2 separate regions of the Homo sapiens genome follow, and region 1 is linked to region 2. A link means that fine-mapping ties the variant in region 2 to the plasma level of a protein whose gene starts in the linked region. Region 2 holds a variant in brackets. A gene starts in the other region. All regions are shown on their forward strands.

Region 1 (16,149 bases), not on the chromosome of region 2:
TAGGGTGCCCCCTGCCTGAGGCTCCGGTCACCTCTCCCCTCCTGCAGCTCCTGCCTGCTGTCAAGAGGACCTGGGTGTGAAGCCCAGCTCTGCATCCTTCCAGCTGTGCAGAAGTGGGCCAGGCACCTCACCTCACTGGGCCTCAGTTTCCTTGACTGTTAAACAAATATGACCACTGGCAGATTGTCTAAACACCACCAGGCAGAGGGGACAGGCAGCTTGAGCTAAGGTGTGGAGTGGGGAACCGCAAGGGGCTGTGAGAACCCACAATCACACTCTCTGCCTCTCCCTGTTCCCCGTAGACAAGCACAGTGACAGAAGCTGGACACTGCCTGTCCTTCCACGTCTCTCCCGCTGCTGGCCACACACAGGGAGCAGCAGGTATGGCCTGGGCACCGGCAGGGCTCCCAGGCGGAGGGATTGGGGTGAGAGCAGGCACAGTTCTCAGATTTTGCCACAAGGTAGAGTTGTGACCCTGCTACTCCATGTTTCTCATACCTGTTAGAATTTAAGGATATTTGCATAATGCAGCATTTTATTTTTATTTTTATTTTTTATGCCAGGCACTGTGCTGGGCATTTGGCTTTCAGGATCGCATGTGATTTTCATAGCCACCTCTCAAGGTCAGCAGTATCATTATCTCTATTTTAGAGATGAGGAGACTGAGGTTCAAAGTGGTGATGGGACTGCATGGATGGACTGGGGAGTCTGACTGGGGAGTCAGAATTCGGCTCAAATCCCAGCTCTTCAGCCTATCAGGACACATAACCTCTCGTGCCTCAGGCTCCAAAGGGGAAAAATGGGGCCAATGATAGCAATAATATTTTGAATAGACCTTAGCTCTTTGTGGATTGTTTATCCTATGCCCAGCCATGGATCATTTCATTCCGCCCTTTACCCCCCTTAAGAGGCAGCTGTTGATACATATTCATTCTGCAGATGAGGAAACTGAGGCCCAGTGAGGTTAGCTGCTGCCTGGCCCACTTCTACACAGCTGGAAGGAGGCAGAGCTGGGCTTCACACCTAGATCCTCTGGCAGCGAGCAGGAGCTGCAGGAGGTGGTGGGTGTCTGGGGCCTGGAGCAGGGGGGACCCTACTGTGTCTTGGCTGAGTCTCCCATGCCCTCTGGCCTCAGTTTCACCACTGATACCACAGGGATTGGGATGTTTGAAGTGGAGTGCCTTCACGGTCCCCTGGTTCTCTGGAGAAAAATGCAGTGCAACAGCCAAGAAGCCATATCCAGGAGGCTCCTGGAGTTGCGGGGGTGGACCCTGCAGCAAGAAGAGGGCCCTCAGCTCCTGGGTGTCTCCCCATGCCCCAGCCAAAGCCACCCAGAGCTCAGTCCACACTGGGCCTCCCTAGTGTCACTTGGGTGCATGGCTGATGACACATATGACCATGTTTGTTTTCTCAACCTTTTCGTCAGGACCGCCTTTGTGAACAACCTGAGGGCCCTGCAGGCTGCGGGGAGAGTCACGTGGAGCCTGAGGGTGGCACAAGGAAGGCAGAGAAGAAGCAAGTGGAGCTGGCCTTCAGGGTTCCTGAGTCTCCACAGGCCCAGGGCACCTGTTCTTGGTCCAGCAATAAATGCTCAGATGGATGGCGAGGACTTGGGTCACCACAGGATCCACTATGGGAGGCTCCTGGGAAATATCACCATCACGACATTCATTCTTTCAGGCAGTAAGCATAGCCAGGTCCCATTTGATATGAATCTGACCTGCAAATCTGCAACAGTGTCCTGCAACATATTAAGTTTTACATGGTGACCAGAAAGTTAAATAAAACATCCCCTCCCCCCACCTTTTCCATTGTTAAGAACACACACCTAACTTGCTCAAGTCCCTCCCTTCTCAGGAAGAATAAAGGTCCCTTCTGTAATTCCACACTCCCTCCACCAACCTCCTTCCCTCTCTCGTCCCTTCGCAGCCAAAGTTCCTTAGAGCTGTGCTTCTCCACCTTGAACACACAAATGAGCCACCTGGGCTCTTGTTAAGATGCAGGTTCTAGAGCAGTTGGTCTGAACTAGGGAGAGGCCAGCGGTCCATGGGCCACCCTTTGAGCAGCATGCTTATTTTGGATACATCCACCCCACCACCCATCTTGTTTCCACTGGTTGCCCCACCAAACTCGGCCTTACCAGGTCCTCCGTGATCACCAGGTAGAGGAAGTCAATGGATCATAGATGAGGTCAGCCTCATCTTGACCATAGCACACATACCACTTCCTCCTCCATGAATCCAGTTCTTCCCTTGGCCTTACTCCCCTGGCTCTCCTCCTCCTCCTCCTCTGACCATTCTACCTCTGCCTCTTTGCAGATGTAATATTTTCAAATCGGCCAACCAGTGGCTTCCTTCACCCTGGCCACTTTGGTTGGTTCATTGCTCCGCATGTAACCCCAGCAGGACCAATGGGAATCAGTCCTAGAACTTGTGAAGAGATATTAGGAAAGACATACTTTCTTCTGCTAGACTATTAAGAGAGAATGTGGACCTGAATCTGTTGGTGGCCATCTCTGCCACCTCTTTGGGGAAGTCAGTTTGAGGAGAAACCCCAAGCCAAGTCATGGAAAGAAACAAAGGCCTGGAGATTTCTTTTGAGCACCTAGATTCAGCCATGCCTGAAACCCGTTGGCCTGCTAGTTACATGAGCCAATGACTTTCTTTCACATCTAAGTCACTTTGGGTTGTGTTTTCAATTACAAATATAACCCAAAGAATCCTGACAAATGCAACTGACAAACATTTCAGTTTATTGGCAAGCCATGGTGGGAAACCAGAGATGAACCCCAGAGAGAACTTGGCCTCCTGGAGTTGACAATGGAGAAGAGACAGCTGTGGGTGTGTAGGCAAGGAAGACACCTGTTCAAAAATGACAAGGCAGAACGTGAGAAAAGGTCAGCTGGGTGGCTCAATGAAGGCTTTATATAAGAGGTGCTTGCAGGATGGGGAGAATTTGCAGGGGGGTGACATCCTCAGACCTGGCCCTTGGCACTGGGAAGAGTTGATGCAAAGAAATTCTGCGAGGCCAGAGAGGAGGCTTTGGGAATTGTCCAGCAGAAACAGAGAAGTCTGAGGTGGTAAGCCAAGACCCCACAGAAACAAGTCCTTCGAGGGTCCCGGACGAAAAGACAAGGAGCTATGGTACTTCTCCCATGGTTTTGATTTTTTTGTTTTTTTGAGATGGGGTCTCGCTCCGTCGCCGAGGTTGGAGTACAATGGTGAGATCTTGGCTCACTTCAACCTCTGCTTCCCGGGTTCAAATGATTCCCCTGCCTCAGCCTCCCGAGTAGCTGGGACTACAGGCACCTGCCACCACACCCGGCTAATTTTTGTATTTTCAGTAGAGACGGGATTTCACCATGTTGGCCAGGCTGGTCTTGAACTCCTGACCTCAGGTGATCCACCCGCCTTGGCCTCCCAAAGTGCTGGAATTACAGGCATGAGCCACTGTGCCCAGCCTCTCCCATGGTTTTTATTCCCCCTTTTGATTGAGTGGCCACCACACGATGCTCCAGGATTCTGCATTCCCCCTTTAATTTAATGCCTCCCCAGTCCCTACTAGCCAGGATTAGCACCGATTTTAGAGAGCAGAAGACACTGTCTCAGACAGCGGCCATGCCTTGCCTAACATCACACAGCTGGCCAGTGGCGGAATCTAGAATGAGGCTCTGCCCTCTTTCCCACCCTTAATCCTGCCGCTGGGCACAGCACTTCTGAGTTATCTTTACTGAGCACTTATGATGTGCCCGACACTGGGCTAACTCTTTTCCAGGCTTAAGTCCCAGATCAGCTATGTCAGGCAGATGATCATGGTCACCATTTTGCAAATGAGGAAATGCAGGCCCAGAGAGGCAATGCCACCATTCCAGAGTCACACAGCTAGAAAGCAGCAGGGTTAGGACCCAAATTGAGGTCTGGCTGGTTACCCAAAGCCCCTGCAAGATAAATATACCCAGACTTAGCCACGTTTTGGAATCCTCCCATCATTTGTCTTCTACATGATCTGTCTCCACCTACCCCACAGTGTCATAGCACTTCCTCTTTCACTCCCAAAGTGCTAACTTCGACCCCATTCAGTGCTTAAAGGAAGGACCTTCACCAGGGCTGGGCACTGTGCCAGGGACAGCAGCTCCCCATTTGCTTGGGGCCATCAATGCACAGAAAATTTGCAAGAACTGTACCTGCTTTGTGGAAAGTAATTGTCAGTGTGCGTGTTGGCCTCTGCCCCTGCTGGTGGGGTCTAAGGATGGACACATGTGGGGGTGCTCTGTGGGGCCCAGAGCCCCACACAGGACAGGACCCAGGTGAGACGCTCTGTAAGTGTGTGACGAATGAATGAATGACAGGATGGGTGGGTGGAGGGAAGGAAGGACTCTTCTTGTGATTCTGGGTCTCATCTACATTCATCTATTCAGTCTGTGGATTAACTTGCTTTTCTCACTTTAATTAATTGTGGTATTTATTGGGATCCACCAAAAGCCAGGCCCCAGGCTGGCTGCTGAGGACACACAGATGGCAGAATCATGATCCCCAACCTTAAGGAGCCCCAGTCCAGCGGAGGAGAAAGGGCTAACCCACAACCCTTCAACCAGTAAGCTTTTATGAAGGGATTTCTCTGACACAGGCTTGGGGCTGGGGGTGCTAGCGCAATGGAGATGAATCGAAAGGACCCACACAGCCCAGGGAGGATTCCGACTGTTAGAATATAAATGGCAGTGCTGCCGGGCACGGTGGCTCATGCCTGTAATCCCAGCACTTTGGGAGGCTAAGGCAGGCGGATTACTTGAAGTCAGGAGTTTGAGACCAGCCTGGCCAAAAGGTAAAACCCCGTCTCTACTAAAAATACAAAAATTAGCAGGGTGTGGTGGTGCATGCTTGTAATCCCAGCTACTCGGGCGGCTGAGGCAGGAGAATCACTTGAATCCGGGAGGTGGAGGTTGCGGTGAGCCGAGATGGACTTTGTTTAAAATATATATATATATATATGTACAGTATAAATGGCAGTGCACTGTGAGTAGCTCAGAGCATGGACTCCGGAGCCAGGTTTTCTGAGTTCAAGCCCCAGCTCTGCCACTTACTAGGTGTGTGACCTTAGGCAGTACACATTACCTCTCTGTGCCTCAGTTTCCTTGTTTATAAAATGGGAATAAGACAGTCCCTGCCTCTGGTTGCTGGGAGGAGTAAATGGAGAGAATATGCCTTCTTGCCAGACATGGGCCGATCGAATCAGCTCACCTACTGCCCTGGAGTTGGCCTGTCTCTGGGACAAGGACTGAGCTTCAGACATCTTTGACCCCATCACAGGGCTTGGGGTGCCCACTAAAGGGTTGTCAAAAGCATGAGTGGCTCCAGCAGAAAATAATTTGCACTTGTAAAGTGAATGAACAATAAATAAATGGACAGATGACTAGATACAGGGCCAGGCCCACTTTAGCAGGGAGGATCTGGAAGATGAGAGAGGGCACAGAGAGATTGAGGGGCCAAATTCCAGGGAGTGAGGTGAGAACAGGGAGCGACCCAGAGAGCTCGCTCATGTCAAGAGGCCCACCCACCTGGGGAAGACAGAAAGTCAATGCCCATGAGGGGAACCAGACCCTGTGCTGGGTACTGGGACCTCGGAGATGCTGTGGTCTTGCCCTCAGAGAGTGGGACTGGCGAGACGTGGCTGACCTCCCTCCCTCCCTTCTTCTCTTCCTTTTCTCCTCCCTTTCTTCTTCTCTCTCCACATCCCCTCTCTCTCTTTCTTTCTTTCTTTCTTTCTTCCTTCCCTCTCTCCTTTCCTGCCTTTCTTCCCTCCCTCCTTCCCTCTCTTTCCTTCTTTCCCTCCCTCTCTCTTTCCTTCCTCTCTCTTTTTTCCTCCTTCTCTCTCTCTCTTTTTCCTTTCTTTCCTGCCACAAACATCATTTGACTCCTGCTGTAGACCAGACCCTGTGCCAGCTCTGGGGGAACGAAGGTGAACGAAGACAAGGTGCCCAGACTTCAAAGGACCCAGGGGAGGACCCTGACCCGGTGAAAACTCCTTTAAATTTTCTCTGGGAGTGTTGGATGAAGCATTCAGGGAACATTCCATGGGACAGGAGGAAGAAGACTCCAGCCTGCAGTGGGGCAAGGCCCCCTCCATCTGTCAGTCCATAGGAAGTGGCTCTCCATATTCTAAAGGCAGGACTTGAGAGGGGTCTATTAGTGTCCAGATGTGGAATCCGGGACTTAGGGAAATACTTGAGCGCTGAAAGAATAAACTGTGTCACCAGAAGAAAACCCGGCAAAGTCAAAATTACCAAAAGTTGAATTAAAGGTCTTCAGACTGTAACATTGTGACAACTTTATTAATTGCTCTATTTAGCAGTCACAGGAAGGACAGTAACGTGTGAACAGGTTTTGTTGCTTTGATCTTTCTTATTTGCCCAGAATTCCTGAGTAGGCAGTTCAAGTGTGAGAAACCAGGACCTACTAGAAATTGGATGGATGATTCGTACTTGACTGATTTCACAGGCAAAATGGTGACAAGCCTTTCAGCAATTTTACTAGCAAAATAAGGCAATTATCTTTGATGGGTGCAATGGGAGTGCACACCTGTGTGTTTGTTATCTGGAGAAGGGGTGGGGGCTGCTTCTGTCCACAGGAGAAGGAAGGTCAGTGGGCAGTCTGGTCAGCTGAGCACCCCCCAGCCTGGCTGGCCCCTCATGCAACCCCAGCCCTGTCACTCGCTTTCTCTGGTCTCAGTAGGCTGCATGACCTCTTAGGCTGTTTCTAGCCAGGGCACTGAGCCAGGTATGGAAAAAGATACCAGCTTGGAGGTTAAGGCTGGGCCAGTGGGATCAGGAAGCTGCCCCAGCTGGGGATTAGCAGTCACGCAGCAGGTAGGATGTCCTAGTCTTGGCACAGCTAATCTTTAATGCCTCACTGGGAATTTTCAATAAGAAATTCATCTCGCGACCCTCATGGCTGGGGCCTTTGTCCCTAAGAGGCAAACATCTTCTATGTGAGAAGACTTTGTGTAACCTGGAGAGGGAAGAAGAGGAGGAGGAGGAGCACACAGGAGGAGTTGTCACTGTTTCTTTTTCCGGAATGACTCAGACCAGCCAGCCTGAACCTCGGGTGACCTCTGAGGATCCCAACCTCCCCACCCACCAAGGACCCTATATTATATATTATATAATATTAATCTTATGACAGATGCTCCTCATTTTATTTTATTTTTGTTTGTTTGTTTGAGACGGAGTTTCGCTCTTTTGCCCAGGCTATAGTGAAGTGGCACAATCTTGGCTCACTGCAACATCCACCCCCTGGGTTCAAGTAATTCTTCTGCTTCAGCCTCCAGAGTAGCTGGGATTACAGATGCCTGCCCCCACACCCGGCTAGATTTTGTATTTTTAGTAGAGACAGGGTTTCACCATGTTGGCCAGGCTGGTCTCGAACTCCTGACCTCAGGTGATCTGCCCGCCTCGGCCTCCCAAAGTGCTGGGATTACAGGTGTGAACCACCATGCCTGGCCAGATGGTCCTCATTTTATAATGGGTTGTGTCCCAGTAAACCCATAGTAAAGTTGAAATATTGAAGTCAAACCATCGTAAGCCGGGACCATATGCGCACATATTCATCAGCATCTTCTTCGCCATCTTTGCTGTTGCCGTGCATCATGGGCCTACCCTATGCTAAGCCTTCATGGGTATTACACTAATTTGACCTCACAGCATGCCCTTGAGGTGAGCACTGTTCTTAGTCCCATTTCACAGATAAAGAGCCTGAGGCTCAGCAAGGTGCGGTCTCTGGCCCAGGTCACATGGCCAGCAACCAGCAGAGAGAGAGTATTCATGCCCAGGACAGCCCAAGCCCAGTGCCAGGCTCTGAGCACTGCCCTCAAAGCCCCTCACCATCGTTTTGATTTCCTAGGTCCTTGCCTGTCCACCATGCCTCTGAGATCCAGGAACAGCGTGTTTACCCATTTTACAGATGAGGCAACTGAGGCCTGGGCCAACACCAGGTCTCGAGGTCACTGCATCATGCTCAGCACCCTGGGCTATGTTCCTGGGCTGGGACAAACTGCCTTCACAAGATTTCAGCACAGCCCTTGGCTCTGTGCTTCACAACTGGGGGAAGAGCGGGGCTCAGACGTTTGGAGAACCCGGTGTCAGGCAGCCAGGGAAGGAGGTGTGACAACCATTCAAGACCACAGGCAAGACTGCAGCAGGGGTCTAATGGTCTGGGCTCTTGGGGCCTGGCCATCACCTTCCTGCAGCCGCCCAGCTCTGTGCTGTAACAGTGGAGCCATGGTCAGTGTAGGAACAGCCAGCTCCTGGAGCCACTGGTCTTGTCCCACCGTTTGCTTGGTTGCATCATTTTGAGGACAGGCCCCCCAGGTCCTTGCTGAATTGCAGGTGGGTGAGCAGAAGGGCAGAGACCTATGGTGACCCTGAGCTCTGTGCCAGTCCTTCCCAGCCTGAGGCCAAGTGGGCACCCACCCGAGTTTCCTGTGCTGTTCCGGGTTGACACAGGCCCAATGCAGCAGGCGTTACAACCAACCCAAACATCAGTGGCCGAAGCAAAAACAGGATACTCAGGCCCAGGGACTCTCCCTCTCTGCTAACTGACCTCAGCCTGATATGGGTGGAAGGGTCTTCCCTGGTGGCCCAAATGCCTGGTTCCTGTCCTTGCAAGTATGGACAAGCCACCTCCCTCTCTGAACTTCAGCTTTCTCAACTGGAAAATGGAGCTCTGAAAACCTGCCTTACAGAGTTTTCATAAAGACTAACAGAAAAGTGCATCTAAAGTGCCCTTTAGGGACACCAAGCCCAGTGTCAGCACAAGCAGCTGCCAGGCATCTGCTGCACCTGCCGGGTGCAGACCCCTGGGGGCAGGACCCCTGGGAGGCTGTCTGACTCCTTGTGGGCCACAATTCTAGACCCATCTCGGTCCCTGTCTTGCTGAATGACCCCAGGCTGGTGGCTTCCCCTCTCTGAGCCTCAGTTTCCAAATGATGACGGAGTTAGACCGGATGGTCATTATGGGTCCTCCTGCCAGGACATTCTCCAATTCATTCATTCTCAGTCTTCTCCCAGTCCTCACCCACAAGGACCAAGGACCACCCCCTCGGTAGCTGCAGGCTCCATGAGGACCTGGTCTTAGTCTTGGCGGAAAGCCCTCTCCATAGCCATCCGTTTCAATTCAAGCATCCTGGGTGACCTTTGAGTTGGAAATCTCTCTCTCTGCTCATCCTGGAGAGGGGTTATTTTCCTTGGAGTGTCCTTGGATGATCCCAGAACCAAGGCTTGCTTCTGTGGGCAGCCTTCCATCCCATCTCCACCATATAATAGCCGCCACCATTCAGCAGAATCCCAGCAGACTGTGCAGTGGGGCAAGGATTTCATGAGCATCCTCCTCTAAACGCGTGAGTGGCGTGCTCCCCCCAGTGGCACCACACGTGGTGGTCTTTGGAAGGCTTTGGGGGCAAGAGGCAGAGGGGTGGGATTGCTTGGGTTAGCTAATATTTTGAATACAGCAGAGATAATCAATATATCTCTAAATGTGCTCTAAATGGCAAGTTCGTGATGAGTACTCACTAAAGATTCCATTTCCCTCTGGGCAATTCTTACTCCTGTTCTTCCCATGACTGTCCAGGTGTCAAGACAAATGGCAAATCAGAGTAAATTTAGAGATCTATAGATTATATTAAAATAAGTGTCAAACTAATGAACAATGCAGGGTCATGAGGTGGTCTCCATTGATTTGTTCATACTTATATTCAACAAAGATTTATTCGTTTACTGTACTGTACTAGGTGCAGGCTTTTTACTGGCGCCTGAGGATTCGACAGTGAAATAAGTCACAGTCCTTCCTCTAAGGAGTTCACAGCCTGGTAGGAAAGGTGGTCAAATCATCAGGGAAGTGTTATCCAAGACCTTGATCAGGATAATGAAGGCAGCAAGGTGGGACTCCTCCAACCTAGAATCTGGGAAGGGGCCTACAGTAGGCTTCACAGAGGGCATGATGTAGGAATTGACCTAAGTGGAAAAGTAAAGAAGAAGAAAAATATTTTAGGCAGAGAAGACAGCGTATGAAAAGGAACTTTGTGTCAAGAGTATGGGCTTGGAGTCAAGTCTGACTTTTCAAATCCCAGCTCCTCTGCTCACTGACTGTGTGTCTCCGGGCAAGTTGCTGTAGCTTTCTGACCTTGGCTGCCCATTTGTAAAATAGGAAATAACCACATCTATCTTAATGGAATGCTAAATGTTAAGAGTGATGGGAACTCACTGAAGAGTCCATTTCCCTCTGGGCAATTCTCACTCCTGTTCTTCCCATGACTGTCCAGGTGTCAAGACAAAAGATGCTTCAGCTTTGGAAACTTGTTCTCCTGTGCGGCGTGCTCACTGGGACCTCAGAGTCTCTTCTTGACAATCTTGGCAATGACCTAAGCAATGTCGTGGATAAGCTGGAACCTGTTCTTCACGAGGGACTTGAGACAGTTGACAATACTCTTAAAGGTAAATCAACAAGGGTGATGAACAGTGTCACCTAAATTAGCCTCCTAAACACTATGCCTGCATTACCAGAGGCTGCCACCAGGGGCTACTCTTTATGGGCGGTTTACTGAGAAAAGTGGCTATTCAATTCCTGACTCATTCGTTTATCTTTCTAGAAACAAGCAATGCCACAATGAATAGCCTTTTACATATTATATCCTGATAAACGTGCATAAGATAAATTCCTACAAGTGGGATTTCAAAAGTTCAAAAACTATGCTGTTGACAAATAATCTCCTATGTTAACACTTTCTCCAACAGTCTACGAAAGTGCCTTTTTTCCCACTCCTTTTCCAGCACTGGGTATGGACAACTTTAAATATTCTGCCTGTCTCACAGATGAAAAGCTATAACTTATTTCACTTTGCATTCCTCTAATTATGAAGGAGCCCTCTTCTTTTTTCATATATTTACTATGTACTTACATATTTTAACTTGAGGATTTTGTCTATATTCTTAGCATATTTTTCTTTTGGGTTGTTTAATATTCTTTTATGGACTTGTGTTAATTCAGTGAAAATTAAGGAAATTATCCCTACCTAGCCTTGGTATCTGTAAAGCTACCTACCTTTATATTTATTTATACCTCCTTTTTATGCTAACCTATTAAAATAACTTGGCTTTCTTTTTGTTTTATGGAAACATTAGCAGCACATCAAAAACAGTTTTTGTAGGAGGAGGTAACTTCTGCAAATGGCTGCCTTTCAAACCTTGTCAAGGGCTTAGGTAACTTTCAAAGATGCAGAAAGGACTCACACTCTAATTTCACAGCTGAGAAAACTGAGGCCCAGAGACAGAAATGTCTAAACCAAAGTCACCTCGTGAATTATACGATTAGACGTAGTTATATCACCAATTTTATTTAAAGTGTCATTCTCTGAATCATTATAACTAGGTAGATATTGTCCATTACAGAGCCAAGTTACAATATTATGATTACATCTCTTTTCTTATACGGTATAGTCTTTTGTTTTTCCTTAAGTTAGTAATTGCCCTGTTGTTTCTCACTTGAATTATTTTCTTCTCATATATACTTAATTATTTTCATGAGCATCATCCTGTATCTATCATGACATTTATTATTTTTTGAGACAAGGTCTCACTCTGTCACCCAAGCTAGAGTACACTGCCAGCCTCAACCTCCTGGGCTCAACTGATCCTCTCACCTCAGCCTCCCCAGTAGCCGGGACTACAGGTGCACACCACCACACCTGGCTAAGTTTTACATTTTTTGTAGCGGTGGAGTCTCACCATTTTGCCCAGGCTGGTCTCGAACTCCCGGCCTCAAGTGATCCTCCTGCCTTGGCCTCCCGAAGTACTGGGATTACAGGCGTGAGCCACCACACCCAGTCACGACATTTATTCCCATCCCCCTGTTCTCCAGAGACCTATCATAAAGACACTTTGTCCTCCTCCTCCTATAAGAATTATTGCTTTCTTTTGGTGCAACTGCTTTTGGTGTCATGAAGTCTTTGCCCGTGCCTATGTCCTGAATGGTATTGCCCAGGTTTTTTATGGTTTTGGGTTTTACATTTAAGTATTTAAACCATCTTGAGTTAAGTTTTTAATAAGGTGTAAGGAAGGGATCCAGTTCCAGTTTTCTGCATACATCTAGCCAGTTTTCCCAGCACCATTTATTAAATACAGAATCCTTTCCCCACTGCTTGTTTTTGTCAGGTTTGTTGAAGATCAGATGGTTGTAGACATGTGGTGTTATTTCTGAAGTTTCTGTTCTGTTCCATTGGTCTATATGTCTGTTTTGGTACCAGTACCATGCTGTTTTGCTTACTGTATCCTTGTAGTATAGTTTGAAGCCAGGTAGCATGATGTCTCCAGCTTTGTTCTTTTTGCTTAGGATTGTCTTGCTATATGTGCTCTTTTTTTGGTTCCATATGAAATTTAAAGTAGTTTTTTTTTCTAATTCTGTGAAGAAAGTCAATGGTAGTTTGATGGGAATAGCAGTGAATCTATAAATTACTTTGGGCAGTATGGCCATTTTCATGATATTGTTTCTTCCTATCCGTGAGCATGGAAAATTAACAAATGGGATCTAATTAAACTGAAAAGCTTCTGCACAGCAAAAGAAACTGGCATTAGAGTGAACAGGCAACCTACAGAAGGGGAGATCATTTTTGCAATCTATCTATCTGACAAAGGTCTAATATCCGGAATCTACAAGGAACTTAAACAAATTTACAAGAAAAAAACAAACAACCCTATCAGAAAGTGTGCAAAGGATATGAACAGACACTTCTCAAAAGAAGACATTTATGTGGCCAACAAACATATGAAAAAAAGCTCATCATCACTGATCATTAGAGAAATGCAAATCAAAACCACAATGAGATACCATCTCACACCAGTAAGAATGGCAATTATTAAAAAGTCAGGAAACAATAGATGTTGGCAAGGCTGTAGAGAAATAGGAACACTTTTGCCCTGTTGGTGGGACTGTAAATTAGTTCAACCATTGAGGAAGACAGTGTGGTGATTCCTCAAGGATCTAGAACCAGAAATACCATTTGACCCAGCAATCCCATTACTGGGTATATCCCCAGAGGAATATAAAACATTCTACTATAAAGACACATGTACACATATGTTTATTGCAGCACTATTTACAATAGCAAAGACATGGAACCAACCCAAATGCCCATCAATGATAGACTGGATAAAGAAAATGTGGTACATATACACCATGGAATACTATGCAGCCATAAAAAAGAATGAGATCATGTCCTCTGCAGGGACATGGATGAAGCCAGAAGCCATCATCCTCAGCAAACTAACACAGGAACAGAAAACCAAACACTGCATGTTCTCATTCATGAATGGGAGTTTAATGATGAGAACACATGGATGCAGGGAGGGGAACAACACACACTGGGGCCATTTGGGGGCTTGGGGGCAAGGTGGGGGAGAGAATTAGGACAAATACCTAATGCAGGTGGGGCTTAAAACCTAGATGACGGGTTGATAGGTGCGGCAAACTACCATGGCACATGTATACCTATGTAACAAACCTGCACATTCTGCACATGTATCCCGGAACTTAAAGTTAAAAAAAAAAAATTATTATTATTGCTCTGTGGACCTGCTGGAAAGCTGTCATTCTGGGACTCTCGTTTTCCAGTTTCATGGATTGGAGCCATTTTTTCTCCTGGATTCTAGATTTTTCATTTCTTGAGTGTATTCTCTCATTCTTTCTAGTTTTTCAAACTCACGTGAGCATCTCACTTAGCACAATGGACCCCTAAGTCACTCCTAGACACTGGTGTACAATCAATAGCAATTGCCTGGCCAACTGGTTGATTGCACTGTTGATAAATAATCAGTATATATTATTAATAGTACGGAGGCAGTATGGAGGAAACAAGAGTTCCCTGGCTGTGTGGCTAGACACGTTTCTTAACCATCTAGAGCCTTTATTTCCTTAGCTATAAAAAAGCAGACAGTGACAATATCTACTTCACTGAGTTGTTATAAAGATTAAATGAAATAACATAGGCAAACAGTCTTACCCGGTACCTGGAGCATCGTAGCTACTTCGTAAGTGGTGCGTGACACAAAATGGCGATTGTTTTTGGCAGGCATCCTTGAGAAACTGAAGGTCGACCTAGGAGTGCTTCAGAAATCCAGTGCTTGGCAACTGGCCAAGCAGAAGGCCCAGGAAGCTGAGAAATTGCTGAACAATGTCATTTCTAAGCTGCTTCCAACTAACACGGACATTTTTGGGTGAGTTGGTCCTTCAGGGTGGAGATCTTTGCTCTAAGGAAAGGGAAAACATATCTTTGAGGAGGTAAGTTTAAGATGAAAGACAGATGGACAAGCCTCATTCCCCTCCCACAGAGCCAAGGTGGTCTGAGCAAGGCCAGACCCACCAGAGCTTGAGTAAATTAGAGGCAGGGCTACAGAGTCAATCCGGGCATCTTATGGGTTCGGGCTTCCGCTTTCTTTAATTTCAGGGTCAGGGTGAAGGTTATATTTATCCTTACCTCTACCCATTTGCTGGTACACAAAGTCCCTTTCCAAGGAATAAAACTTCCCTTTTCCATATATAACTGGGGGTAAAAGCCCAGATCCCCTTAGGGGAAGGGAACTGGAGTCTTCGCCACATAACCCCAGGCAGTGGATCCACTCACATACTTTTATTATTATTATTGTTATTATTATTATTTTTTGAGATGGAGTTTCACTCTTGTTACCCAGGCTGGAGTGCAATGGCACAATCTTGGCTCACTACAGCCTCGCCTCCTGGGTTCAAGCGATTCTCCTGCCTCAGCCTCCTGAGTAGCTGGGATTAGAGGCATGCACCACCACGCCCGGCTAATTTTGTATATTTAGTAGACACAGGGTTTCTCCATGTTGGTCAGGCTGGTCTCGAACTCCCGACCTCAGGAGATCTGCCTGCCTTGGCCTCCCAAAGTGCTGGGATTACAGGCGTGAGTCACCGTGCCCGGTCCCACTCATGAACTTTTAAAGTCAGATAGTTCTGGCCTCAAAATCTGCCTCTGGCACTTACTCCCCTAGGAATCTGGGGGAAAATCACACCAGCCTGAGCCTCAGTGTGCTGTGCCATAAAATACAGAGAATCAAACCTCTGAACAGGGCTATAGTGAAGACTAAAGAAGGCAAGGCTGACGAGACCCAAACGCTCAGCTCGAGGCTGGCCCAGGGAAGTGGTTGGCAAGTGGCTGTCATGAGGAGTGACAAGGGTGAATTGTGGGTTTCACACAGGTTGAAAATCAGCAACTCCCTCATCCTGGATGTCAAAGCTGAACCGATCGATGATGGCAAAGGCCTTAACCTGAGCTTCCCTGTCACCGCGAATGTCACTGTGGCCGGGTGAGTATGCACTAGAATCTGAGATTTGGGAAAGGCAGTGCAACCTGGCCGATGGATGCCCAACCTGGGAATCGGGCACCTCCTCCCGCTGCTGGGTGAACTTGGGCCTCAGTTTCCCAATCTGTGAGTGAGAGAACCCTTCTGGGTCTAAGATCTTAACCCTTAAAATGTTCTAGAGAACTCTGGCCATAAGCAAGTGTCTTTTAAAAACAATGCTCCATTGAATATAGTTTTGAAATCATGACATTTATCTGGTTTTAAAATTTGAAAAGTTGAGATAACAAACATTTATCATTCTTTGGCAAAATTTCCTCCAGCATTATTTTGTCCCTCAAGATTCTCTCTAAGTTGCAGTGACCACTACAGAAAAATTCATACAATAATACACAGTGTATAATAAAGTGTGTGTGTGCAAAATATAAGTTTAAACTCTTTTAAGTTTAGCTGGGAGTGGTGGCTTATACCTGTAATCCCAGCAATTTGAGAAACTGAGGTGGGAGGATTGCTTGAGCTCAGGAGTTCGTGACCAGCCAGGACAATATGACAAAACCCTGTCTCTACAAAAAATACAAAAATTAACCAGGTGTGGCAGCACACGCCTGTAGTCCCAGCTACTTGGGAGGCTGAGGCAAGAGGATTGCTTGAGCCGGAGAGGTCGAGGCTGCAGTGAGCCGTGATTGCACCACTGCATTCCAGCCTGGGCGACAGAGTGAGACCCTGTCTCACAAAAAATAAAAAATTTTAATTTTAAAGGAGATAGACAAGAAATGAGCATGTGTGAA
Region 2 (16,149 bases):
TATTTTTCGGACATCTAGCTATGACTTCTCTTTCTCTCTTTTTTTTTTCCTTCCTTCCTTCCTTCCTTCCTTCCTTCCTTCCTTCCTTCATTTGTCGCTCCCTCTCTCCCTCTCTCTCTTTTTCTCTTTCTCTCTTTTTCTCTCTTTCTCTCTTTCTTTCTCTTTCTTCTTATTTTAATAAAGTGAAACAGCACAGTATTTTCAGAAGAAAATTAGCACATATATAAATGCACATATTTCACTTGTACAAATTTCATATATATCAAGGCATTTGCTTAAGATTTTAAAGAACCAGATGTTTTATGACCTGTAAATAGTGAGTTTTGCCTCTAAAGCTATTTTTTAATGTGTTTGGTTCCAACTTGGCCTCTAATATATCTACATGTGCTTTTTGGAAAAAAAATCAATCTACTAGCACTAAATTTTTCAAACTTCAATCTGATAAGCACAAATTCAATCATCAAATGTTCTCTGGGAGCTCTTACCCAAGATTCATAGTTGCACATGGTTGCACACTGTGATAGAAGAATGCACCACTGGCTAGAACTGGCTCAAATTGATATTTAATCATTCTTTTTATGCTCTGAGTGGCATACAATTTTACAAATAAATAAATAAAACACCAAGTTGGAAGCAAATTCTAAAATGTTCAAGATTCATATACTTAGCACAAAAGTGTTCATAATAAAAAACACATTATCAACAACTTCTCAAGGACTTACCTTTAGGTAGAGATTGGTTCTCACTACTAAACACGTAATATGATATCTGCACCTGCAGAATGCATCAGCATTATCTTAAAGTGAAATTGGAGTAAAGGTGAGGAAATATAGCATAATTTTTAAATTGCTATGTATGTAATACATTCTGGACCACACCTTTATGGTGGAGGGAAGAGAGAGGATGATATAAAGGAGATGATTACTCCTGGAATTTATATTTGATTATTACAGTTATGTTTTTCCTTGAGCAAGTTCTGAGAGCACTGATGAACAATGAAAATCTTTAATGGAGTATCTTTTAAAAAGGATAAAAACTTGGATAATTTTGAGATACAGTGCAAAGACTGAAACCAGTTTCACAAATACTCAGTTCAAATCTCAGCAATCCCACTTAATATATTGTCTGCATGATTTCAGAAAATGTTCTAAACACTCTGAGACTCAGGCTTCTTATTTATAAAGTGGAGAAAATTCTATTTGCCTTCAGAATATTCTGAATATGGTTTATAATATTGCAAATACCTCAAATATCTGCAAGGTTGTATGGCTATTAGCCGTAGATTTTAATACTCTGGAGCAACAGCACATTAAGTAGCAATAGTAGACATTCAAAATCACATTATTATTTTAGAGTGAATAAAGCAATGTAGTAGTAAGAATTAAAAGATGTCATTTATATGAAATTATTGTATAAATTTCTAAATAATAATAGAAATGTTTGCAATCGATATGTTTGTTATAGGGAGATAGTTTGGAAGAGTGGATTAAAACCATACATTCTCAAATTTGGCTCCTAAGACATAACTAGTGTTCAGTAACTGCATGACTGAGCAAGTTATTCTAATTCTCTATGCCTCCATTTACTCCATTTAATCATCTGTGTAGCAGGGAAAAAATAGTGTCTACATCACAGGGTTGTTGTAAATATTAAATACTTATAATGGCTCCTGGTACAAAGCAAGTATGGTATAAAGTTTTACTAACTTTGGTTGAAGACTCACATTTGCAAAGGATTTATTAAATTCAAGAGAACTTGTATATAATTTACTTTACTTACCCTTTTAAGTAAAAGTACATTCTTTGGGGATAATACTCAAACAATACATAATATATGATATATATATGTGTGTGTGTGTGTGTGTGTGTGTGTGTGTGTGTCTGTATTTGACTTTATTTTTAATGGATATATCATAGTTGTACATATTTGGGTGTTACACGTACTATTTTGATATGTGTATACAATGTATAATGATGAAATAAGGGTAATTAGGATATGCATCACCTCAAACATTTATCTTTTCTTTGTGTTGGGAACATTACAATTCTTCTAGCTGCTTTTAAATATACAATAAATTTTTACTAACTTTAATTTTCCTACTGTAGTGTTGAATACTAGAACATATTTATGCCATCTAAGCATATTTTTGTACCCAGTAACCAACTTCTCTTTATCCTCCCTTCCTCTCACAGCCTCTGGTAGCCACCATTCTACTCTCTGCCTCCATGATATCTACTTTTTTTAGCTCCCACATATGAGTGACAGCATGAGATATTTGTCTTTCTGAGCTTATCTTATTTCACTTAACATGATGTCCTCCAGTTCCATCAATGTTGCTGCAAAGGACAGAATTTTATTATTTTTTATAGCTGAATAAAATTAAATTTTGTATATATACTGTGTGTTCTTTATCCATTCATTTATTGATGGACACTTAGTTCAATTCCATATTTTGACTATTGTGAATAGTGCTGCAATACACATGGGAGAGCAACTGTCTATAATATATTGATTTCCTTTCTTTTGGATATATACCCAGGAATGGGATTTCTGGATCATATGGTAGTTCTATTTTTAGTCTTTTGAGAAACCTCTATACTGTTTTCCATAGTATCTCTTTTACTTACATTCCCACCAAGAGTGTAAGAGCATTGCTATTTCTTCTTCACATCCTTGCCAGCATTTGTCATTTAAAAAAAATCTTTTTGACAATAGCCATTCTAACTGAGATAAGATGATATCACATTGTGGTTTAGATTTGCATTTCCCTGATGATAAATAATGTTGAGCATTTTTCCATTTACTTGTTGGCTATTCGTATGCATTCATTTGAGAAATGTCTGTTTATGTCCCTTGCCTGTTTTTTAACTGGGTTATTTGGTTGTTTTGCTATTGAGTTGCCTGAGTTCCTTTTATATTCTGTTTATTAATCTCTTTTCAAATAGGTAGTTTCTAATATTTTCTCCTATCCTCTAGGTTGTCTCTTCACTTTGCTAATTGTTTCATTTTTGTTCAGAAGCTTTTCAACTTGATGAAACCCTGTTTGTCTATTTTTGCTTTTTTCGTTTGTGCTTTTGAGAACTTACCCCAAAAATCTTTGCCCAGATCAATGTCCTGTAGTGTTTTCTCAATGTTTACTTCTAGTAGTTTTCTAGGATTATGCCTTTTTTTTTTTTTTTTTTTTTTTTTTTTTGAGACGGAGTCTCGGTCTGTCGCCCAGGCTGGAGTGCAGTGGCGCCATCTCGGCTCACTGCAAGCTTTGCCTCCCGGGTTCACGCATTCTCCTGCCTCAGCCTCCCTAGTAGCTGGGACTACAGGCGCCCACCACCACGCCCAGCTAATTTTTTTTGTATTTTTAGTAGAGACGGGGTTTCACCGTGTTAGCCAGGATGGTCTTAATCGCCTGACCTCATGATCCGCCTACCTCGGCCTCCCAAAGTGCTGGGATTACAGGCGTGAGCCACCGCACCCGGCCTAGGATTATGTCTTACATTAAAATCTTTAATTGATTTTAGTTGATTTTTAATACAGTGAAAAATATGGATCTAGTTTCATTCTTTTCCATAGGAGTATCCAGTTGTCCTATCACCATTTATTAAAGATGCTGTCCTTTCTCCAAGGTATGTTGTTGGCACCTTTGTCAAAAATGAGTTTACTGTAAGAGCATAGATATATTTCTGGGTTCTCTATTCTATTTCATTAGTTTATTTTTTTTTCTTATTCCAGTACCATGTGATTTTAACTACTACAGCTTTGTAGTGTAATTTCAAATCAGATGGTGTGATACCTCCAGCTTTGTTCTTTTTGCTCAGGATTACTTTAGCTGTGTGAGATCTTATGTGGTTCTTTAAACAAATCTGGAGGTAGCTTTGGGGAGTATAAACATTTTAAAAGTATTAATTCTTTAAATCGTTGAACATAGGATATTTTTCCATTTTGTGTGTGTCCTCTTAAATTATTTTCATCAGTGTTTTCTAGTTTTTTCTTATAAATATATTTTACTTCTTTAGCCATACTTATTTCTAAGTATTTTTGTAACTATTGTAATTGGGATTTCTTTCTTGATTCTTTTTCATATAGATTGCTGTTAGTATATAGGACTGGTACTTATTTTTGTTTGTTGATTTTGTATCCTGTAACTTTACTAAATTTATCAGTTTTAATAATTTTTTGTGTATTAGTTTTTTATATATGGTATATTTTTAAGTTAATAAGGTGTGATTACTTCAAATTTTGTATCTCTCTGAATTTTTCAATCGTAAAAGAAACGTTTGTTTATTATAAAATGAAACAGAGAGCCAAATCATGAGTGAACTCCCATTCACAATTGCTTCAAAGAGAATAAAATACCTAGGAATCCAACTTATAAGGGACATCAAGGACCTCTTCAAGGAGAACTACAAACCACTGCTCAATGAAATAAAAGAGGATACAAACAAATGGAAGAACAGTCCATGCTCATGGGTAGGAAGAATCAATATGAAAATGGCCATACTGCCCAAGGTAATTTATAGATTCAATGCCATCCCCATCAAGCTACCAATGACTTTCTTCACAGAATTGGAAAAAACTACTTTAAAGTTCATATGGAACCAAAAAAGGGCCCGCATTGCCAAGACAATCCTAAGCCAAAAGAACAAACCTGGAGGCATCATGCTACCTGACTTCAAACTATACTACAAGGCTACAGTAACCAAAACAGCATGCTACTGGTACCAAAACAGACATATAGATCAATGGAACAGAACAGAGCCCTCAGAAATAACGCCGCATATCTACAACTATCTGATCTTTGACAAACCTGAGAAAAACAAGCAATGGGGAAAGGATTCCCTATTTAATACATGGTGCTGGGAAAACTGGCTAGCCATATGTAGAAAGCTGAAACTGGATCCCTTCCTTACACCTTATACAAAAATTAATTCAAGATGGATTAAAGACTTAAACGTTAGACTTAAAACCATAAAAACCCTAGAAGAAAACCTAGGCATTACCATTCAGGACATAGGCATGGGCAAGGACTTCATGTCTAAAACACCAAAAGCAATGGCAACAAAAGCCAAAATTGACTAATGGATTTAATTAAACTAAAGAGCTTCTGCACAGCAAAATAAACTACCATCAGAATCAACAGGCAACCTACAAAATGGGAGAAAATTTTCACAACCTACTTATCTGACAAAGGGCTAATATCCAGAAACTACAATGAACTCAAACAAATTTACAAGAAAAAAAACAAACAACCCCATCAAAAAGTCGGCGAAGGATATGAACAGACACTTCTCAAAAGAAGACATTTATGCAGCCAAAAGACACATGAAAAAATGCTCATCATCACTGGCCATCAGAGAAATGCAAATCAAAACCACAATGAGATACCATCTCACACCAGTTAGAATGGTGATCATTAAAAAGTCAGGAAACAACAGGTGCTGGAGAGGATGTGGAGAAATAGGAACACTTTTACACTGTTGGTGGGACTGTAAACTAGTTCAACCACTGTGGAAGTCAGTGTGGCGATTCCTCAGGGATCTAGAACTAGAAATACCATTTGACCCAGCCATCCCATTACTGGGTATATACCCAAGGGACTCTAAATCATGCTGCTATAAAGACACATGCACACGTATGTTTATTGCGGCACTATTCACAATAGCAAAGACTTGGAACCAACCCAAATGTCCAACAATGAGAGACTGGATTAAGAAAATGTGGCACATATACACCATGGAATACTATGCAGCCATAAAAAAGGATGAGTTCATGTCCTTTGTAGGGACATGGATGAAATTGGAAATCATCATTCGCAGTAAACTATCGCAAGGACAAAAAACCAAACACCATGTGTTCTCACTCATAGATGGGAATTGAACAATGAGAACACATGGACACAGGAAGGGGTACATCACACTCTGGGGACTGTTGTGGGGTGGGGGGAGGGGGAGGGATAGCATTAAGATATATATCTAATGCTAAATGACGAGTTAATGGGTGCAGCACACCAGCATGGCACATGTATACATGTGTAACTAACCTGCACATTGTGCACATGTACCCTAAAACTTAAAGTATAATAATAATAAAAACATAAAATAAAATAAAATGATAAGGTATTACAAACATAAGAAGAAAAGGCCAAAGAAAGCACTATAGTGCCAACATTTTAAGGAAATCAATAAATTGGAGATAATAATCACATTCTTTTTCAGTGTGTGTTATTTACAATTGCTTATTTTTTAATTATTAACTAATGACATAATTCAAAGTTTGATATAAATTGTTTGCAAATTGCTAGAGTCACTGTTGTAGGGAATTTTTAAGGTAATTTGATTAAACTACTATAAAAAAAATTAATCTTTCTACAATTTCCTGACAAACTTCCTACAAGGAAATCTTATTATTATATGTTAATCACTATTGTTACTGGAATGTTATTTCATATATTTATCCAATTTCATCAACATTTCATTTTCTTGGTGTTCTTACCTCTGCTTTTTGTAGTAATTCAAACTGCCCACTGTGTATTTTGTTTCATGGGTTCCTAATTTGGCAGGCAACAGGCACTTATGAGCCTGAATAGAAAAGGAGGAATACACGCCTCTGGACAAATGGTGGGACATCTTAGACACAGTAACAAGGTACGTCAGGAGGTGCTCCTTTGGCTAGGCTGGCAATTTGCTGAATTTGGCTGAAATGAGAGGAGTCCTTTCCTTGGGGACTACAATGGCAGGTAAATGAACCTACAAGGCATAGATGACAGACAAGGGTTGGCTTCTTAAGTGCAGCTGGAGTGGCACACATTTGTAAGCAGATAGCATGCCGATGCTGCTGTCTTACTTGGATCTACTACTGGAGATGGTGTCATTCTAGTTGATTTCTGGGGAGTATATTGAGACCCAAAGCCTTGGACTGAGCTGAGAAATGCATTATTTAAAAGATGAAATTAAGGAAGTTTATATTCCTCCTTTTCTCAATACTTCAAAGGAAGTGGCTATCCTACTGAAGGAATGCTACAAACCAAGAGATGTGTGCTGGGCCCTGCTCACAGAAGCTTTTCACCAGGATGCCAACCAGACAGAAGAAAAGAACCCAAACTCCTAGAGAAGATGAAGTGGAGGGGAGGACCCAGGATGCCAACCAGACAGAAGAAAAGAACCCAAACTCCTAGAGAAGATGAAGTGGAGGGGAGGACCCTGGAGAAGAGGACTGTTGCCCTCTAGAGAAAAGAGCAACATGGTGTCACCACAATTGGGACTGGGAAAATTTACCCTCTTTTTGCCTGTCGTCCACCACAAGGCAATAAGAACAAAACAGACAAAATGATTAAGAAGGAGAAACCAACTCTCCCTTGGAGGAGAAAACATGCATCTTCTCTCTCACCCTGAGGCCCAGTCTGTCCTTAAGGATCTAGCCCAAGAACAAAATGAGAAAGGATCTGGGTACTTGTTAACACATCTTGCTGCATGTGAGTAAAACAACAATCACCAAGTTTTATAGGTAGCTAATGACATGCACCAGAACTATCATATCAGTCTGCTGACTAAACAGATGGAACAAATCAAAAAGTCATTTCTGTTTCTAATCTATTCTACCTCCATTAGGTGAATAGACTGGCTGTGAATACTTTCGAAATCCTAGTTTGTGCCCCATCTTGTATGGAATTCTGGGTTATGAAAATGCTTTGTCACTGGCTCCATCTAAGCCCTACAAAACAAAATACAATTTAGATTATAAAACAACATAGAACCAGGGATGGATTGTTATATAAATGTGGCAAAATAATGGCCTCTGAACATTGGCCACTAGGTTGTTTATTTCTTCGCTGCAGGCTGCAACCCATTAGCTCAAGAGCCTGCCAGTGCCAAACACAAATATTTACACATCCAGTTATTTTTAAAACAGCCCAAACAAGCTAATTTTTAGCTATTTAGAGCCTGCTTATTTTGAATACTTTGTAAAACGTCATGCCACATCTGCCAGCAATAGATAAGCCCTATGCCATAAAGACCCCCAAACCACTGCTGCCCTCTGGATGTGGCTGAGTCACATCATCTGGATACATAAGTCCCATCTTTGATACCCCTTCCCCCTAGGAAAATTCCCAGCCCTCCTCCCTTTCTGTAGCAACCCCACTTAAGCCTCTGGATAGACTTATGTTCTGTCATAAGAGATCCCCCCTCCCATCCCACATAAAATACAAACCTGTCAAAGAGTGATGAAATAAACTGCCATGTCATGGTCATATCTTTTCCTTGATCAAGCCCCAAATTTCTCAAACCTCTCATGAATATGCCATGCACATACTAATTTAAAGAAAGCTAGAGTGCCCCTATTAATATAAGATGATGTAGACTTCAGAACATGGAATTTTATTAATAATATAGAGGGACATTACATTATAAAAAAAAGTAGTTTTCCAAGAATAACTTAAAAATCCTAAAAACATATGTACTTAAATGCTGAGCTTCAAAAATACATGAAGCAAATCTAATAGAATACAAAGGAAAAAGGAAATCTCCATAATCAAGTTGAGACTTCAACCTTCATCTTTCAGTAATTGATCAAATGAATAGACAGAAAATTGCTAAGATATGAAAAGTCTGTCTACCTATCTAACTACCAGACCTGAAAAACCTATCTATAAACTTGACTCTAATTCCTACATCACCCCACTTAACAACAGAATAAGATTTCTTATCAAGTATACATGAAATATGCACCAAAATTGACCATATTCTGGGCCACAAAACAAATCTTAAACAATTTAAAGGAATAGATATCATACAAAGGGCATCCCCAGATAACTATAGATTAAACCAAAATCAATGACATAAAGGCATCTGTCATATCCCCTTAGACATTTAGCAATTAATCAACAAAACCCTATGTAGTGCCTACACCTAAGAAAAAGTCTCAAAGGATACTGCTTTTGTGATTATACTAAATGAAAAACAAACATATCAAGGTTTATGGGATGCAACTAAAGTGGAGTTCAGAAAGAAAATTATAACAGTAAGTGCTTATATTAGAATACCATAATGGTCTTTAAATTGTTCATGCACCTGCCTACATTTAATTATCAACACAGGACTCATGATTTTCTAAATAGGATTAGATTGTATTATATCTCTGCCTTTCTGTCTTATGCAGAATAAAATCCTAAAAGTTTATCACAGCCTTCAAGGCTCAATATGATATGGCCACACGGTACTTTTCTGACCTCACTTTCTCCCACCTGTGTCTACTGTTCCAGTAATGTTAGCCTCCTTGTGCTTTCTCAAAAATACTCCTGCCTCCACTTCTTTGCAATAATTTCTCCCTCTGACAGTTAACACTCTGCTTTTTATAGACACATAAGTGAGTCTCTCCCTTCATTAAGTTCTCTCAGCCTCTCTTTATTAGAGAGGCTTCTTTAACCACCCTGTATAAAATACCACTCCCTCTACCTTGGGTAACTGCAATGATACATCAAACATACTTGATATGTAAGTGCCTCAAACACAGCAGACATTTATATTTTGTTCACTCTATGATGACCATGCCAGTTTAACACTCCTCCACATCTTTGCTCAGAGTATTAGGCTGAGTGGAACCATGACACCATTTTCAATATGTGGTTTCCAAGCTTACTGGGGTCCTCTCCATCCTTGCTAGTGAAAAGATAAAAAGAGGATGAAAACAACAAGAGTATGGTAGGCTTTAGTTTTGTTCACTTTTTTAAGGGCTAGATTAGAAGATTGCATACATAATTTCTGCTCACTCTTTAGTGAATGAAACCGAGTCACATGATTATATTTTACTTCATAAAAGGTTGATTTTGAGAGCCTCAAATCTATGTTCTCAAGCAAAAGATTATAATGTAATTTTGGAGAGAATTTAAGTCTTTGAGCTCCCATTAAATTGTGCCTTAAATTTTTTAGTCTGGAGCTTACTAGATCCTTCTGTTAGTAAGTGCATTTTTTTCTTTCTTGTTTCTCTAGCCTGAATAGAGTGCAAGCATCATGAGAACAGGTACTCTGGGTATTTTTCTCTTCGGTTGAACAAATAGTCGTAAATGCCTGTAGTTTTACATTTAGATACC[G/A]AAATAGACTTATAAATGGAACTTTCACAATAAAATTATGAATATATTGAATGGAAGTGAAGATAATTTGTAACATTAAAGATTTATTAAAATTGTCTTGAAAACATAAGGTAGATAAAGAAATTATTTTTAATTCTGGGCAATTTACCCCCCCCACACACACACATATATATGCATATAATTTTTACTGATTATTACTAAGCATTTAAAAAAGAGTCATAGTTCTTTATCCAACATGAGGATTCTACACATACTTCCTGCTATTTACTCTGAAATACCCACAACCATTAGAAATAATTCTGAAGTATTTAAACCATAATTAAAGTCATTACAATGCCTTCTGTAGTAAAATTTGGCTTTTGAAAAGTGAAAATCGTTCTGCAAAACTCTCCATATTGCAGTAGAAAAACTAAGTATCACTTACATTTGACAGCAACTAAATGTAACACGGGCATGCAAAAAAAATGGAGAAATATAAATTATAAGAAGTCAATTGCATAGAGAATTTTTAAAAATATATTTGGTATTATTTGTATCATAGGGAATATGGTAGTTGCCTTCACAAGTCTAACCAGATAGAAAAAGAAAATTCCAAGTTTCAGAAAGCCCAGCCATTGGCAGGTACCCAAAATATGTAACATCAAGAGGTTGGTATGGAATGGACACTATGAATAAAGGACAGTAGGGCCCCAAACTGAGAAACTTCAGTAATGTCTAGCTGCTGTCTTTCCTAGTGGCATTAAAAATAAATATATTTCTTGTTGGAAAGTGTCCTGATTGTGTAGGAAAGTAATGATTACATATTTATTTTACTGCTGTTATCACTAAAATCATATCCTCTCTTATATAATATATTTATCTGATTTAGGAAATAGGCTCCAAAGAAAATTGAGGTCTCCTTACAGGCAAAGAGAACATAGAGTTGAAATAGAATTGCATTTAAGATGTGCATATTGGCCAGGGGCGGTGGCTCACGCCTGTAATCTCAGCACTTTGGGAGACCGAGGCGGGTGGATCACGAGGTCAGGAGATTGAGACCATCCTGGCTAACATGGTGAAAACCCGTCTACTAAAAATACAAAAAAATGAGCCACGCGTGGTGGCGGGCGCCTGTAGTCCCAGCTACTCGGGAGGCTGAGGCAGGAGAATGCCGTGAACCCAGGAGGCGGAGCTTGCAGTGAGCCGAGATCGCACCACAGCACTCCAGCCTGGGCAACAAGAGCAAGACTTCGTCTCAAAAAAAAAAAAAAAAAAAAGTGCATATAATGTTTTTTCTTGTCAAAAGAAGGAACTTACAGGAACATATACAATTATCAAACTTTTGTGTATGTTCAAAATTATTAAATTTTAAATTATTAAACATATACAATTATTAAACTTTAAATTTTAAAGTTTAAATTTTATATTTATATTTTATTTCATAACATCCTAACAACAAAACATTTTTCCTCAAATTTATGTCATGTATTTAGACTTAAAATGGATCTGTATTCATATCACCTGTTGTTTATGATTACAGACTTAGTCTTCCTGTTCCAGTTGATTCCACACTGAAATCTACTGTTTCAGGCACTTTTTAAAATATATCTATTTAATTTCTGGGATACATGCACAGAATGTGCAGGTTTGTTACATAAGTATACACATGCCATGGTGGTTTGCTGCACCCATCATCCCGTCATCTACATTAGGCATTTCTCCTAATGCTATCCCTCCCCTAGATCCCCTCCACCCCCTGACAGACCCCAGTGTGTGATGTTCCCCTTCCTGTGTCCATGTGTTGTCATTGTTCAACACCCACTTATGAGTGAGAACATGCAGTGTTTGGTTTTCTGTTCTTATGATAGTTTGCTAAGAATAATGGTTTCCGGCTTCATCCATGTCCCTGCAAAGGACATGAACTCAGCCTTTTTTATGGCTGCATAAGTATTCCACGATATATATGTGCCACATTTTCTCTATCCAGCTTATCATTGGTGGACATTTGGATTGGTTCCAAGTCTGTTATTGTGAACAGTGCGGCAAAAAAAACATATGTGTGCATGTGTCTTTATAGTAGAATGATTTATAATCCTTTGTGTATATACCCAGTAATGGGATTGCTGTGTCAAATGGTATTTCTGGTTTAGATCCTTGAGGACTTGCCACGCTGTCTTCCACAATGGTTGAACTAATTTATACTCCAACCAACAGTGTAAAAGCATTTCTATTTCTCTGCATCTGTTGTTTCCTGACTTTTTAATGATCACCATTCTAACTGGCATGAGATGGTATCTCATTGTGGTTTTGATCTGCATTTCTCTAATGACCAGTGATGATGAGCATTTTTTCGTATGTTTGTTGACTGCATAAATGTCTTCTTTTGAGAAGTGTCTGTTCACATCCTTTGCCCACTTCTTGATGGGGTGGTTTGTTTTTCTCTTGTAAATTTGTTTAAGTTATTTGTAGATTCTGGATATTAGCCCTTTGTCAAATGGATAGACGGCAAAATTTTTCTCCCATTCTGTAGGTTGCCTGTTCACTCTGATGATAGTTTCTTTTGCCGTGCAGAAGCTCTTTAGTTTAATTAGATCCCATTTGTCAATTTTGGCTTTTGTTGCCATTGCTTTTGGTGTTTTAGTCATGAAGTCTTTGCCTTTACCTACATCCTGAATGGTATTGCCTAGGTTTTCTTCTAGAGATTTTATGGTTTTAGGTCTTACATTTAAGTTTTTAATCCATCTTGAGTTAATTTTTGTATAAGGTGTAAGGAAGGGGTATAGTTTCAGTTTTCTGTATAAGGCTAGCCACTTTTCCCAACACCGTTTATTAAATAGGGAGTCCTTTCCTCATTGCTTGCTTTTGTCAGGTATGTCAAAGATCAGATGGTTGTAGATGTGTGGTGTTATTTATGAGGCCTCCGTTCTGTTCCATTGGCCTGTATATCCATTTTGATACTAGTACCAAGTGGTTTTGGTTACTGTAGCCTTGTAGTATAGTTTGAAGTCAGGTAGCATGATGCCTCCAGCTTTGTTCTTTTTGTTTAGGATTCTCTTGGCTATGTGGGCTCTTTTTTGGTTCCATATGAAATTTAAAGTAGTTTTGTCTAATTCTGTGAAGAAACTCAATGGCAGCTTGATGAGCATAGCATTGAATCTATAAATTACTTTGGGCAGTATGGCCATTTTTATGATATTGATTCTTCCTATCCATGAGCATGGAATGTTTTTCCATTTATTTGTGTCCTCTCTTATTTCCTTGAGCAGTGGTTTGTAGTTCTCCTTGAAGAGGTCCTTCACAACCCTTGCAAGTTGTATTCCTAGGTATTTTATTCCCTTTGTAGAAATTATGAATGGGAGTTCACTTATGATTTGGCTCTCTATTATTGGTGTATATGAATGCTTGTGATTTTTGCACATTGATTTTGTGTCCTGAGACTTTGCTGAAGTCGCCTATCAGCTTAAGAATTTTTTGGGCTGAGAAGATGGGGTTTTCTAAATATACAATCATGTCATCTGCAAACAGAGACAATTTGACTTCCTCTCTTCCTATTTGAATGCCTTTTATATCTTCCTCTTGTGTTTCAGGCACTTTTTTTGCATTAGTTACCTAAGGGGTTCTGTAACAAATTTCCACAAATGTGGTGGCTTAAAACTACACACATTCGTTCTCTTATACTCTAGAGATAAGAAACCTGAAATCAGTTGCATTGAGCTAAAATCAAAGTGTCAGCAGGGCCGCACTCTCTCCAGAGGCTCTCGGGAAGTGTGCTTCCTTCTCATTTTCAGATTCTGAAGTTGCATCACTTGCATTCCTTGGCTCATGACTTCTCGCACCTAGCCAGCAGAGTCTCACCTCTCTCTGACTCTGCTCCCCTCTGCCTCATCTGCTTCTCTCTACTTCAGCCATGTGACCATCTTATCTGTTTCAAATCTGTCTTTGCCTTTGTCTTATAAGGACATCTGTGACTGCATTCAATGTCTACCTGAATGATACAGAAAAATCTACCCATCTCAAGATCCTTAGCTTAATCATATCTGGTTAAGTCTCTCTTTGCCATTTAAGGTAACATTCACAGGTTCCAGAGACTAGGACCTGGAGACCTTTGAGCGTTATTATTTAGCCTCCCACATGGTTAAGGATACTTTAAGAATTATTAGTCAATGATCAACAGAACTGTAAGTTAAATTTGACCCAATTCTTCAATTCTTGTAGCAATATTAATTTATTTAGTCTGAGATTACCAAAATTAAATTTTTCTTGAAACTCAGAGAAAATTATAAATTTGATTTGTCTATTTTCCAAAGATGTCTATTTATCTCAAATGATACTTAAGTATCCTGAACTTGATGTCTTGAAATTTTAATACCTAGAACTAATCCACCTTATGGGGAAAAAAGTGTGTTAATATTTTGTTTTTACAGTATAGAAATCAATTTGTCATCTTAGCTACATTTAGTAACCAAGGAGTAAAATGAGACTTGATAAAAACACTACCAGCTTTCCCTTCTATATGATTAAGAGAACATATTTTTTGGAGTCTGTTTATATTGCCTTTTAAAATTAAATAGCATTTTCAATTTGTGCAGGAAGAAACTGCTGCCAGAAAGATGAACATCTGCAAAAGTTTTAGAAACTGTATATGATTTTTTTCACATTCTATAAAGGTTTTTAGGACTGATAAGAAAATAATAAATTTGGTGGTACCTGAGTCACCTAGGTTAGCACAAATGAATATTTTGAGTTTCCAAAGAAATATTTGACCACCTCATGCTGACTTAATATCTTTCAGGGTAATCACTGGCATGTTTTAATTAGCAATCAGGAGAGAAATTTACAAAATTAATATGAAATTATGTTAAACCTAAATCAAAACACTACCAGCTGTATAATTACACATAGATACACCACATAATAGGTGAAAATATGAAGCAGAAATTGACATGCATGGGATCAAAAACATTAAACCTCCTGGTTTACTGTGCCTTGTATCATCTGGGTATTATATCTGTAATAGTGGTTTGTATTGTGGTGAACATTGTGTAACAAAGTGAATTGCTGCAGCAGAGTACCTTGCTGTAGAACATAGACAAATAGCACTCTTTTTAATTTAAAACCAAACTTTCTTTCCTTCCAAGAGCTTATTAAAATCTCAATAGGGCAATAATAGCAAATCATATTACCTAGGAAAGAACATACATAAATTTTATTTCACAAAATTGTCTCTGCTTTTCTAAAGTAATCTAAGAATACATGGTATTATTTCATCTCATTATCCATTCCTTTTATAGAAAATTGGAGATCTGGAGTCACAAGTTTTCTTGTTCAGTCTCTCTACTCTATTTATAATAAATGTGTATGTGGTAGTAACATTTTGATAAAAGTCCAACATACAGAAAATTCTGGAGAAAATACATTTTCACAGTTAATCATCAAATGAAATAAAATCGTTCCTAAGGCAAAATAGTAGGGAAAAGAACTATAGATTTTACATATATTATTGGGATTTTAGTACAAACTCTTTCATTTAGGAGTTACTTCAACCTTGGAAAACAGAAAGGCACAACTGTGTTCGTGTTATGGCTACCTGTGCCACAAGCAACAGTTATTGGAGGCAATTTGTTTTTGTTCATTCATTCATTTAACACATTTTAAAAATATTCATTAAGTTACTTCTATGAACCAAGACTTGTTCTAGAAACTGAAAATACCTCAGTGGAAAAAAAAAAAAAAATATATATATATATATATACAAGGGGACCTAGAACTCATATTCTATCCTGTGTGTGAGAGTGTAGAAAACAAAGAATAACTAATAAAGAAAATAAATATGTAAGATATGTAGCATTTTAGAAAGTAATAACTTTTATTTTGTTATTAACTTTAATGGAGGAAAATACAGCAGAACAAGGAGATGGAGATAATAGAAAACTCGAGAAGGAAGGAGTACTGCCTTACTTAAACAGTGGAATAAGAAGATCTTATGGAAATAACATTTTATAAAGTCTTATAGAAACAAAAGAGCAATGCTTATAGATATCCAATGGAAGAGCATTCTAAGACTCTCAGGCAGAGGATGAATAAAATTT

Alleles and levels. Alleles are on the strand shown, and positions count from the first base shown. The strength of an association depends on the size of the effect and on how common the allele is.
As copies of A replace G in region 2, the plasma level of the protein whose gene starts at base 9,340 in region 1 goes up (weak association).

What was found. PIP is the posterior inclusion probability: the model's chance that the variant is causal. The UK Biobank Pharma Proteomics Project read protein levels with antibody pairs (Olink). The fine-mapping took linkage between variants from a reference panel, not from the people measured, so its PIPs are less certain.
Region 1: BPIFA2 starts here. The variant in region 2 is fine-mapped to the plasma level of the BPIFA2 protein (UK Biobank, PIP above 0.99).

Annotation. Positions count from the first base shown.
Region 1 is chr20:33,158,820-33,174,968 of GRCh38, forward strand. BPIFA2 (BPI fold containing family A member 2) reads left to right here and starts at 9,340. Exons shown (of 9, transcript NM_080574.4): 1 at 9,340-9,390; 2 at 10,312-10,483; 3 at 14,113-14,257; 4 at 15,260-15,367. The coding sequence starts at 10,327. It overlaps LOC105372714 (a long non-coding RNA gene), which reads left to right. Exons shown (of 4, transcript XR_005647055.1): 4 at 1,427-1,804. RefSeq lists enhancers at 7,478-7,979, 7,980-8,479.
Region 2 is chr1:102,638,376-102,654,524 of GRCh38, forward strand. LOC105378874 (a long non-coding RNA gene) reads right to left here. Exons shown (of 3, transcript XR_947651.2): 3 at 9,528-9,650. Among named protein-coding and RNA genes, the nearest start is that of COL11A1, 460 kb to the right of the region's middle. The variant G/A (reference allele first, on the strand shown) is at 10,082.